3 separate regions of the Homo sapiens genome follow, and regions 1 and 2 are each reported to be linked to region 3. The links are microRNA targets in miRTarBase. Many come from high-throughput screens and were not tested one by one. Region 3 holds a microRNA gene; each other region holds the end of a gene's coding sequence.
What was found. Region 3 holds the annotated microRNA hsa-miR-4693-3p (UGAGAGUGGAAUUCACAGUAUUU, at 1,203-1,225, opposite strand). A microRNA usually pairs through its seed, bases 2 to 8, with sites in the 3' UTR of a target mRNA and lowers its output. Matches are read on the target gene's strand: a 7mer-m8 pairs with bases 2 to 8, a 7mer-A1 pairs with bases 2 to 7 and ends in A, and an 8mer does both.

Region 1 (4,227 bases), not on the chromosome of region 3:
GAAATTTGCTTTTTGTGTGTTTGACATTCCTAATTTGGGAGTCCTTCAGCTGAATTACTATTCTTTTAGAAGTTGAGACAGCAGGTAAGCAAAGGACCTAGTTCATGTAAACATGGACATCATGATGGCTATTTAAAAAATATTTGTTCTACACCTTCTCCCCTGAGGCTTGGGGAGTGTGTTCAGCCGCTGCAGTTTCTCTGCTCATGGAGGTCTTGTTTGGATCTGTGCTGGCGGCTGAGCATTTAGTGTGAGCCAGTGACCCATGAACTTGCCGCTCTGTGAGGGCCAGAGTCAGGGCCAGTCATGGTAATGGGCCTGAAGGCACTTCCAGAACCTTTTATGTCTCTCGTGAGCCATCTGTTAAGAACGTTCTTCTTGGTGTGGTTTGTAGGCCTACCTGTCGCTATTCTGGGAAACCTTCTTGAGTGCTATGCAAATGTGTTCACAGGCAATGGGGGTGGTCCTGAGCCTTGGGGTGGGCACCTGGTCAGTGAGTGTCTTGCCCTTCCCCAGCTGGGCATACAGTACCTTGCTCTTTCTGGTGGCATCATCTGGCTGTGATGAATGAGGTCTAGGAAATAATTTGCATGTGTCTTGGGGGACACAACAGTAACGAGAGGAAATACATTATTACAGCAACTTGCGACGTACTAATACCTGTCAGTGTTGGCCCCCGTAAGGTATGTAAGGCACCTGTGAGTGCCAGTGAGTGCTGGTGAAAGGCCAACATGTACTAGTTATGTAAGTATTGGTGTCTGCTTTAAAAAAGGAGACCCAGACTTCACCTGTCCTTTTTAAACATTTGAGAACAGTGTTACTCTGAGCAGTTGGGCCACCTTCACCTTATCCGACAGCTGACTGTTGGATGTGTCCATTGTCGCCAGTTTGGCTGTTGCCCGGACAGGACAGGACCTCCATTGGGCGCAGCAGCAGGTGGCAGGGGTGTGGCTTGAGGTGGGTGGCAGCGTCTGGTCCTCCTCTCTGGTGCTTTCTGAGAGGGTCTCTAAAGCAGAGTGTGGTTGGCCTGGGGGAAGGCAGAGCACGTATTTCTCCCCTCTAGTACCTCTGCATTTGTGAGTGTTCCCTCTGGCTTTCTGAAGGGCAGCAGACTCTTGAGTATACTGCAGAGGACATGCTTTATCAGTAGGTCCTGAGGGCTCCAGGGGCTCAACTGACCAAGTAACACAGAAGTTGGGGTATGTGGCCTATTTGGGTCGGAAACTGCATGTTTCAGAAAGTTTGTCTCTTTTTCCTACTCATTATTTGAAGAAGAGAGAGCCTGTGGGGATAGCCTTATCTTGGTCCACAGGACTGAAGTGAAGTCACTTGGGAAGGGGAGACAGAGGATGAGCGGCGTCTGTGTAGGGACCCCCCCCCGGGCCTGCAGAAGGGTGGTGTGCTCCCAGGACTGGCATGACAGGTGTCTCCTCCTCACCACAGGCTGTGCCCATGAGTCCCTGTGCAGACCAGTGGGCAAGGCAGCTGGGCCAGATCTCAGGCCAGCCGTTTGTGCTCCTAGCAGGGTTGCTGTGCTGGCCACACGGAGAGGCCCTAGAGAGCCTCATGGATTGTAACTAAAGAAGAAACGGTTCCTTTTTGTTTTTTTAAAAATGATTTTTAAATACCGTTTTTTACACCGTTCTCTCGGTACTTTTTTTAAGCTAAGTCAGCATTGTCTTCCAGTGTTAAAGGCATCCCTCACCTCTGCATTGAACTTACGTATCCATGCCAAGGAATGGAATTTCCATCCTGAGCCAGTTCAGTTAGGTGTCAATTGATACTATTTTAATTTTTTATGCAATCTGATGAGATGAGCTCAGATTTAAAAATCTCAAAAGCACGTTTATTGTAACAAGAATTGTTATGTATTAATACTGCAGTTTTCAATAAAGATTGACTTGTGTTGCATATTGTGGTTTTCATGATTTCTCCATATGGGTTTTTGTCTAGAGGTAGCATGGCCTGACTGGGAGGTGCTGGGGCTTCTCTCAAGTTGGGAGATTGCCAGGGGTTTTGAGAAGAAGACCACCATGGCGTCCAGCCCCAGTGACCTTGGCAGTGCTGGAGTGTGGTGGAGGCAGCAGGTTGCAGGGGACCATTTTCCCAAGTGGGACAGGGAGGGAAGCAGCACCATGCTCCCCTTCTGGCTTCTGTGGCCAGGGTCAGAAGACCCTGGGAAGACACGTTCTTCCTCATTTCACCAGGGATGCTGAGGCCCAGAAAGATTACTGACTACTCACCCACCAAACTCACGTGGGCCAGCTCCAGTCAAACAAACACAGGGAAGCACTGGTTTCTGGGTCTTGAGTGCAAGGGAGGGCAGAGCTACCTGTATTCCCCATCAGCAACCAGCATGGCCTGGCCCTGCTCGCCTTAGGCGAACAACTGCAGCCAGCCCCGCCTCAGCCTATCATCTCCACTAAATCCCCGAGGGTGTGATCTGCGACAGGTGAGCCCCCACCCCACCTTTAGAGGCTGCTGGCCACAGGAAAATGCACGCACACCCACAGAAAACGGGCTAGCAGCCAGGTTACTTTTCATAAATTTATTTATGAAATTAAATGTGGTTTCTGGCTTGGAGAAGGAATAGTGCAAGAGTGACTGTCCATGCTGCTGAATCCTGTGGGCTCCACGCCAGCTCGCCAGGCCCTGGCTCTGCTCCTGGCGCCCCTTGGCAGGACAGGGCGCCATCTCCACACACCCGCTGCCTGGGCTGTGGGTCAGTCCTGTGTGCTGAGCCACAGAATTCGGTCTCTCTCTTATGGCTTCTCACGCTCACGAGCGTAAGGCAATCTTCTGTGTCACTAAGAATCAATTCTTTTTCTCCATTGTTTGTTGTTAGAAAAACAAGATGCCAAAATCCAAACAAAACCAGGAACGAGGTGGTTCTGGAGCTACCGCACAGCAGCAGGCAGACTGACCACACTCCCGACTGGGAGTATGCAGCCGACTGCACCGTCTTGTCCTTTTCCGCTACACACACACACACAAGTGAAGAGGGTGTCCAGCAGCCAGCGGTGTCTTGAGGGGCTGGGAGGCGAAGGGCGGGCTCCGGGCGCAACACAAGGGTGTGGAATTCCTGGCTTCTGCCCTCCCAAGTGGCAAGCTGCCTGGCACCACTGGCCGGGCTGGGGACTTGGAGAACTAGAGGGCAGAGGGGCACATGGCCTGGCATTGCAGGCCACAGAAGGCCAGAGAGTCCTGCCCAGAGGAAATGAAAGGAGGATTAGGTTTCCAGAGAAGAGGGTCCCACGCAGGTAGCGCCTTCTCCCCAGCTGGGCCTGGGCTGAGCTGCGGTTTCCCCGCTCCAGCAGTGAGGCCCTACACAGGTCCAGAGGGCGGATGGGGCCCAAGCTGCAGCGGCGGTGTGGCGAGTGCGGGGTCTGCCCCCTTGCTGGTCTCTTCAGGGCACCAGGAGCAGGGAAAAAGACAACAGGAGTACAGACCTGGCACGTCTTGGTGGCACAAGCAACTCCCCAGCCCATCCCTGCTCACTTGCAGGCAGAGGAAGGCCAGGCCGAGTGGGCCTCGGGGAAGAAAAACTGGGGGCCACTGGCAGGAAGGCCCAGCAGGTGCTGTCAGGCAGGGACCAGTTCACTTGCGGAAGGGTGCCAGCCGGCTGATGCTGTGCCAGAAGGTAGATGGCTTGCGCCTGGGCTCCGCCAGCACCAGGACCTGCTGCTGGGGCCGGTTGCTGGGCAGGGCTGGGTGCTTCTGGCGCGTCAGGTAGCAGGGCCGGCCAACAGCTGAACAGGGAGAGACAGCAGAGGGTCATGGGTGCCCAGGGCAGAGTGCCACCCCAGCTGTTGGGGACAGCATGGGGTCCGTCCCAGGGCTCTGCTTCAGAGCCGCCGTAGGAGGCAGTTTTGCCACACAGGACTTGCTCCTGGAGAGCTGACCACATCCAAGAGCTCAGGCTGCCTGGGGTCTCTGGCCTGGGCCTGGCCTCCTGCAGCAGCCTGAAGAGGGGGGTGGCCTGTGCAAAGGCATGTGATGTTTCAGGGGCATGGCTCTCTGTAGAAATGGGGAAAGCAGCTCCATCCCTACACCAACCCCAGATGCCTGTCAGGAAGGAACCCTGGGGAAACAAGCATTGTCACCAATGGCCCTGATCTGGGGGAGCCAAGGTGTTGAGAGTAAGAATGTCAACCATATACTGACCCAGGCTTCCCCAGTGGCCCCTTATTACCAACCTTTGGGAACAAACAGCTGCAAAGGGCAGTG
Region 2 (4,242 bases), not on the chromosome of region 3:
TCTGTACAACACTAACTGCTAGCTACCCTACACAGCTGTTGTTTCTCGCTTTCAAAACATTCTAGTGCTTTTTTATAACGTGTGAAGCGTTCCCCCAATTAAGTGGTCTATTAACTGGAAGTTCACAGGCTTCTGCTCTCATTCAGTAGCAGAATTGGTCACACCTGTTAGATTCTCAGCCTCCTCCTTTGTCATTTTCTCTCCTCTCTCTCCACCACTTCCCTCTCCCCTTTAAGAAAGACCTATCTCAGCCAGGAGCGGTGGCTCACGCCTGTAATCCCAGCACTTTGGGAGACCAAGGTGAGCAGATCACTTGAGGTCAGGAGTTTGAGACCAGCCTGGCCAACATGGTGAAACCCCGTCTCTACTAAAAACACAAAAATTAGCCAGCCATGGTGGCAGGCACCTGTAATCCCAGCTACTCAGGAGGCTGAGACAGGAGAATCGCTTGAACCCAGGAGGTGGAGGTTGCAGTGAGCCGAGATCGTGTCATTGCACTCCAGCCTGGGTGACAGAGTGAGGCTCCATCTCAAAAATAAAAATAAAGAAAGAAAGACCTATCTCATGAGCACCAGAGACACAGGGACCAAGCAAAGCTCTACCCTGGGCACTTAGCATGAGGGTCGGGGCACTTGAACATTCCTTTTTTCTTTCTTTCATTCAACTGCTCAATAAGGTTCAAAATTAATGTTCAAAATTAAGAAATGTCAAAACATTACCTTTGGGTTGGCATTCAGATAAACGTGGGGAAGGGGAAACTTGAAATGCACAAGCATAAAAGTAACCTGTACATTGGTTATAAGGAATGAAATTGGTGACCCTCATTTGTCAAAATGGGCTCCTCCCAGTAAGGAATGACAGCTTCAGATGACTTTCTGACATTTTTCCCCCTAATCAACATTCATTTACAGAGTACTTTTGCAGTCACCGGGGAGATACAATGATGTACAAGATACAGCCCTGCCTTCTGTAGTTTCAATCTAACAGGATAAAAAAAAAAACATAAAGCCATATACAAAAAAAAACTTTTCAGATAAGATATAAGTGGTATAATATTGCTAGAATGTTCTGGGAATTCAGAGACTTGAGCTCTCCCCTGATTGGGGGGATCAGGACTTTGACCTAGGCATTGGAGTACAGATAAGAGATACACGTGAAATGTGTGTGTGTGTGTGTGCATGTGATTCCAGGTGGGTGTGTACAGGTGAGCAGGGAGGGGACTCAACACAGAAATAGCAGACTGAGCAAAGGTGAGGGGGTATAGGAGAACAAGACATGTTGAGAGAAGAGAAAGGACCCAAACTTGTCTGAAGCAAAGAGAGTAACAGAAGAAAACGAAGGTTGAAAGCCTGAAATGGCAGACTGGACATTGGACTTTATTCCCTCTACAATTTGGAATCATTTAGTCATTCAGCAAATGTTCCTTAATCACATGGCCAGGCTCTGTGGTAGGTATGGTGAGAAACAGAAACAAACAAACAAAAAAACATAGTCCCTTGCTCTTGCCACCAAATTTCATGATAACATAAATTTCTGGAAATAGAATTTAAACTCAAAGAGGACTTATGAAGAGCAAAACAAAATTAGCCAAGACAACAGTTAATAATAAGGAATCTTCTCTGGTTACTTATTGCAGTGTGACAAATTATCCCAAAGGTTAATGACTTAAAACAACAATCATTTGATTCTTTGTTCATGCTTCTGCAACTGACACAGGCTTGATGGAGACGCTCGTCTCTTTTCCGTATGGTGTCAGCTGGAGTAGCTTCAACAGCTCGGGTCTGGCTGGAAGGGACAACTTGTGTCATGTGTCCGGGCCTCAGACTCTGCTGTGGGTTGGGTGTCTCCGTTCTCCTTCACATGGTGATCTCAGGCACTCTCATTTGTTCCTGGTAGTTCAACTCCTTATGTGGCAGCTGGCTTCCCCCACAATTCAAACGAGGAAACTGCCAGGGTTTCTATGCCCGGCACAGTGCCATTTATCACAATCTCCTGATTAAAGCAAGTCACAAAGGCAGCCCAGATTCAAACAGAAGGGACTAAATAAAGACATGAGTATCAGGAGGCATGACTCATTGGGGGCCACCAAAATAAAAGCCTACCATTGAATCTTAAAGTCAAATAATCCAACCGCATCTTCCACAATTTTAACCGACAGAGGGACATTAACTGCATAGGTTTTTCTACTCCAGAGCACGTAACCCCACCCATCTCACCCTATCCCCACCTTTTTGAATGCCAGCCACATGCAGCCATTTCTCAGACCACTCACTGATCACTTAATGGAACTGCATCAAGTTTAAACCAACCTTGCAACAAAATTTCAAAGAGGCCAGCATCCGGGGAGTGGGTGCTAGGGAGGGGCAGGGGGCTTACAGCTCAGAACCACCCATTTGCTCGTGAGCCTGTGTCCCTCCTAAAATCTCTTGCTGTCATGTTCTTCAGATTCAGAACAGGAAGGAAGAAAATCCATTCCTGCCTGGCACTTGCCACTCTGTCTGCCATCTCCCACATCCTCATCTCGCCTAGGTCTCTCCTCATCCCCGCATCTGTGTCACACCACCCTGTCCCTGGGAGCTACAGCAGAAAATTGAGTTCCTCATTCTCAGAATGCCACTTAAGATCCAGCTATAGCTTTTATAATCCCCCGTGTTTTAAATTGTCTTGAACAAAACGCTCCGGGTGTGGCCTGGATACTGAATTCAGGGGTGGTACCAGAGTTTCTATAGAAGCTTGGGATGCAATCTGGTTAGAGGGAGGGTGAGAGGGACTTAGAGATTTTTCTTGTAATTTTTACGAGTGATGTGACTCCTTGGATAACTAGGATTGATCACCAAAATAATTGACATTAATAGCCAAAAAGTAATTAATAAAAACACTCAGCTCACATAAATTAATAAAAATGTATACTTAGTACATATAAAATCAAAAGTTAACTGGGCTTAGTAGAGGAGCAGAAGCAGAGATGTTTGCATTTGCTTTGTTTTTAACATTTCTAACCATCCATCAGTTATTCCATGGAAAGGCAGGATGGCATGATTATTGAGTATGGGCTCAAGAAGTCAGACCGTACATGTTTGAATTCCAGCTCCACTGTTTACTGAGTTATCTGGGGAAAGTTACCTAATTTCCCTATGTGTTAGCTTTCTCATCTATAAAATGAGAACAATAATAATACTTACTATCTCAGGGTTGTCGCAAGTATTAAATAGAACTTACAAAAAGCACTTTGACCGTGCCCACTGAATTGTAAGCACTCGGTGTTACCTACTATTGTTATCCCGTAAGTTATCATGAGCCTGAGGATTTTCAACACATGCTTTATAGATTTTTTTCTCTCTATTAATTCTTGTTTAGCATGATCTTGAAAGCAATGACTGTTTAAAATTATGAGAAGCCAAAGATGCCCCTGCAAGCCACCTTCTTGGTATCTTGGCCAACTTTAAATAAATCTTGGCAAGTAAAGGTATCAATAGCAAAGTATCAATAGCAAATACACTAAAAAAAAACAAAACAACAACAACAAAAAAACAAAAAAACGCTTAAGGTAACAAGTATTCTCCTAAGCCTCAGAAATTGAGTATTAAAAATAAAAGCTAGGTGACAGAGATGAACTTAAGAAAGAAAAAGCTGAGAAATAAGCACTGAATCTATATACACTTGGAATGTTTTAAAGAAAGTGTGTACCTGCTCATCAAATTTGTATGGGGAGGAAATGAAATAAGTGAAAGCAGTCTAGAATTTTACTTTAGATAAAATCATACAATTCCATGTATTATTTTTGCCTTTGATTGCTCTCCCAGCACCCTCTTTCCCATTACAATCCCAAGAGGCAAGCAGTGAGAAGAGGCATCCAGTGAGATAAAACAGGGGAACATGATGGCTCAGCAATGCACTCATACAGAACCATTTCCCTGCTGCTCTGCGCTTACAGAATTTTATTTGCGTAGAAGAACTGCAGGATCTCTGGATGATAGTGGCTCTGAAAGAAATTAGCAAAGGTACGCGTGAGGGCAGGATTCAACAAACTTCCTTGACAATGTAACTAGTAGGCAGTGATCAGTGCAGGGCATGTGGATAAGCAGGAGAGGTGGAGGCATCATCTGTATCCAGCTAGTGACCTGAATTGGAACTGCCGATATATCTCGTGCTTGATCCTCTAGGCGTTTTGCCATTTACATTGTATGATGGGTCAATTACAATCAAAACACAGTTGGCTTGGCCGGGCATGCTGACTCATGC
Region 3 (4,242 bases):
GGAGGACAGTGCCCAAACCACCTCAAGTACAGAATAATTTACTCTCATTTAGAAGATCTCCAGACAGAGCTCGAATGGCTCCCTTGGCAACAAATTTTAGTTTTAACAATCTTTGTAGCTTTATCCTTCCCTCCAGATAATGCCATAACTGTGTACTCTAGATTAAACGTTTTCTCCTTTTCTGCCCACAGTGCTTTTGAAGCCAAACATGATTTCACATATAGTGTTGGGTCATCATTAAGTCACCTTTCAGAAGTCCCTCTAAATTAAGGAGTCCTCATCCTTTCCTTAAATTTTTCATGTGTCCTGACCTATGAGAATCTGTTATACGCATGTTTAATTTCTATGGAATACCTCATCATACAACTTGAAATTCTGATTGACTAGTGGTTTTTTTCCTGCATAAGTGCTACTTCATCTATGCCTCAGTAACAAACAACAACAATCACTTAATGGAAATGGTGGCAGGCAGAATTCTAAGATAGCTGCCAGATTCCTGCCGCCCCTGGTGTGCATTCCTTGATAATCACTCTCCTTTGAGTGCAGGCAGACCTGTGTGTATGATACCACTGCTATGATTACATTGCTCATCAGGCGACTGTGAGCTAGCCAAAATGGAGAATATTCTGGTGGGTCTGACCTAGCCAGGTGAGCCCGTTTCTGAGTCATAGAGATTGAAAGTGTGAGAGGGATTTGATGTGAGGGGGAATTCTCTGTTGCTGGTTTTGAGTATAAAAGGGGCCATATAATAAAGACTTGAGAGTGGTCACTAGTTGCTGAGATCCATCCCTAATTGAAGCTAGCAAGAAACACTTCTACCAACAACTTGAAGGAATTTGGAAAAGAATCCTTCCCTAGTCAAGTCTCTAGAGGGGAATGCAGCTAACTGACACCTTGATTTCAGCCTCGTGAGACCCTGAACAGAGATATCAACCACTCAGTTGCCTGGACCTCTGACAGAAATGAAAGATAATAAATGTCTGTTGTTTTAAGCCACTAAGTTTATGGAAATTTGTTACACAGCAATGGAAAACCAATATAGGCCCCTATCCATGAGTTACATTGTAGTAAACACCTTTCCTACATTATAGATATCTCATCTAACTCCTACAGCAACCCTTGAGGTAATCACTGTGTCCATTGTCAGAGCAAGAAAACTGAAGCTCGGCTTCATAAACAGAAGCAGCAAGGATTGATTCCTTAAATACTGTGAATTCCACTCTCACTTTATTTGAATTTGTGACAGTGAAATTCACAGTATTCTTTAAACATTTTACCCCCAAGCGATGCTCTTTCCTCTGAATTGCTTTGCCTGTCCTAATAATTTTATTTATACAGGCTGATGCTGGTGACTTGGGAATAGTATTTTTATCCAAACCATTTGGCTTCTTATAGGTATGAGCCACTGAGGGAGCTATTTTTTATTTAATTGTGCTTTGGAAAAATCAAACGTAGCCTTGAGTTTTAAAATTATTAAGCTTACACTTTTTCACAAAATAGAAATGGAGTAATATAGCTCTGTCCTTCCGTTTTTTAAAGCCAAAAAATGTAAGAATGGAATGTACTGGCTCACTGCTCCCACGGTGTCCTTACCAGCACAACTTACCCCATCCCTCCCTAGCCCACTCTTGAGGATACTTTCTTGCCACTGTCAGGCTTACTCCTGCCTCCTAGACTGAGGAAAGAAAAGCCTCCTGGTTTGGAGCTCATAATCAAGTCAGCCTTGCTGCAGGGCTCATTTTAAGCCAGTATCCTGGACCAGGTGAGTCTTTTTATTCATCTCTGCTTTGTATCCAAGTTCCATTTATCAGGTTACTAACTGGCCCCATCATGCATTCCTTCAGTAATTACTTTATTTTTAGCACTGCCAAGAAAGCAAGTCTTTTCCTACAAAAACACAGGATTTCCAGTGGGGTTAAATAAATGTGCCTATGTTCTCACTTGAGACAGCAAAAAGGGAAGGAGCGAAAATTGTGGAAAGAATTGAAGACAGAGGGTAGAGGGTAGGGTGCCAAGTGTGGGGGAAAACTGAATTATGAATATTAAGGAAAAATGAAAAATAATATTAAACTGAAATGGAGAGAAATAATATAAGTGAGAATAGAAAAACATAAAACAACCTTCCCCAAAACAAAGGATAAAGAAAAAAGAATTCAGGGGAAGCTGTAAATATCTAAGACATAGCAGCAAGGGCCTGGGAATACTTATAGTGTTTGAAGTTCTGAGCTTTATTTCGCTGCAGTGAGGATCTTAAAGATGCTTAAACATATGAATAAGCAACAAAGTAATGTGACCGTTCAGCTACAGGAAAGGGGTCCCAATCCAGGATCCAGACCCCAAGAGAAGGTTCTTGGATCTCTCACAAGAAAGAGTTCAGGGCGAGTCCATAGAGTAAAGTGAAAGCAAGTTTCTTAAGAAAGTAAAGAAATAAAAGAATGGCTACTCCATAGACTGCATCCACGACGGCTGCTGGTTGCCCATTTTTATGGTTATTTCTTGATGATATGCTAAACAAGGGATGGATTATTGATGCCCTCCCTTTTTAGGCCATATAGGGTAACTTGCCATGGCATTTGTAAACTGTCATGACGCTGGTGGGAGTGTAGCAGTGAGGACGACCAGAGGACACTTTCATTGCCATCTTGGTTTTGGTGGGTTTTAGCCATCTCCTTTACTGCAATCTGTTTTATCAGCAAGGTCTTTATGACCTTTATCTTGTGCCGACCTCCTATCTCATCCTGTGACTTAGAATGCCTTAACCATCTGGGAATGCAACCCAGTAGGTTTCAACCATATTTAACCAGCTTCTATTCAAGATGGAGTTGCTCTGGTTCAAACGCCTCTGACAGTTTTCAGAGATTATTGTCAATTCAGGAGTCAAATCATTAGAGACTTTACAAAAAATCAGATGAGGGTAATAAAACTTATGATAATATAATATTGACATTTTAACACTAGGTATAAATATTGTTCTAAGCATTTTAACTAATTTAATCCTGAAAAAAAAAGTCCTCTATAGTTATTACTATTTTTATGCCTATTTTACAGATAAGGAAGCTGAAGCTTTGAGAATTTAATTTGCTCAAGGGGAGGCCAGGACAAGAAATAATGAAGAGTCCGATGTGGCAGGAATGTAGGAAACAAGTCAATGATGGAAGATAAATATGGAGACGTGATGAAGGCAAAATTCTGAAGGGTCTTAGAGCCCATTATAAGACGTTTGGTTTTTATGGTTAGTGAGAAGGAAAACCATTGGGGGTGGTTGGGCAGAAGAGTAATATGACTTGACTTATATTAAAAAAATAATTTGGTGGCTAGGTTGAGAATATATGTAAGCAGGAGTGGGGTTGGGGGTGAGTGGCTGGGGCTGTTTATATCAAGGGTGGATCCAGGCAGACCAGGCAGGAAGGCATTGCAATAATCCAAGCAAAGGGAGAGGGTGTCTTGGTCACTAAACTGATGCCAGATATGAATTAGCTATACTAGAAGATAGTGAGAGATGGTACATAAAATCATACACATTTATTGCAACTGTATGTATTCCTTAATTACAATTTACTACATATAGACTAATCTAGATGAGCGCTTTCTAGGTACTCTTTAGTAAATTCATAGTCAACTCATAATAATGAATATGGTGGTCATTTTTTACAAAGCAACTTCCTGTGCATTACTTTGAAAACAATCCAATAAGGTATATGTGGCAAATACTACTCCTGCAATTTAACATGAAAAAAACAGACTTGGTGAACTTAGAGCTTGGCTTACCAGTATAATATCAACTATACGTCCTTTCTCCACTGAACTCAACTTCCTAACTAAGCTTGTGCCAAGGGGCATTTCAAGATAAAAATGAAAAAAGAGGCTACATCTTCCAGGATAAAGACTTTGGTCTGAAAGTAACATGTGCATTAAAAGTTCAACTTTGATAAAAGTTACAAATCACTATACAGAAGACCTATTAAATGAAATAGACCCCAAATAAACACAACAAAGGCTTTTCTTTTGTAAGATGATTTTAAGTTAAAATACTGAAGAACCTTTTGAGAAAGTGCTCAGAACATTTCCTCTGCTCACTGCAGCTGCAAGAATCAGCACAAACATCCACATCCTATTAGCTTTGATTTCCAACTCATGGAAACCCAACCTGTCGGTTTTTCTCTTTTTTCCCAATACATAGTGACATTAACTCAGCCTTTTCTTCAGAAGTCTTCTTTTCTTGGCTGTTAAATAGATTATCAC

Region 1: the mRNA of ARHGEF4 is a reported target of hsa-miR-4693-3p. The part of its 3' UTR that is shown has no 7-base or 8-base seed match.
Region 2: the mRNA of MRO is a reported target of hsa-miR-4693-3p. The part of its 3' UTR that is shown has no 7-base or 8-base seed match.

What each region holds. Positions count from the first base shown.
Region 1 is chr2:131,045,560-131,049,786 of GRCh38, reverse strand. It overlaps ARHGEF4 (Rho guanine nucleotide exchange factor 4), which reads right to left. Exons shown (of 14, transcript NM_001367493.1): 14 at 2,534-3,749. The coding sequence ends at 3,598. It overlaps FAM168B (family with sequence similarity 168 member B), which reads left to right. Exons shown (of 7, transcript NM_001009993.4): 7 at 1-1,911. Among named protein-coding and RNA genes, the nearest start is that of SMIM39, 13 kb to the right of the region's middle.
Region 2 is chr18:50,795,409-50,799,650 of GRCh38, forward strand. It overlaps MRO (maestro), which reads right to left. Exons shown (of 8, transcript NM_031939.6): 8 at 1-3,982. The coding sequence ends at 3,929. Among named protein-coding and RNA genes, the nearest start is that of MRO, 22 kb to the right of the region's middle.
Region 3 is chr11:103,846,934-103,851,175 of GRCh38, reverse strand. MIR4693 (microRNA 4693) reads right to left here and starts at 1,270; the gene lies at 1,196-1,270. It overlaps LOC102723862 (a long non-coding RNA gene), which reads left to right and starts at 1,625. Exons shown (of 4, transcript XR_001748346.2): 1 at 1,625-1,762; 2 at 3,049-3,232.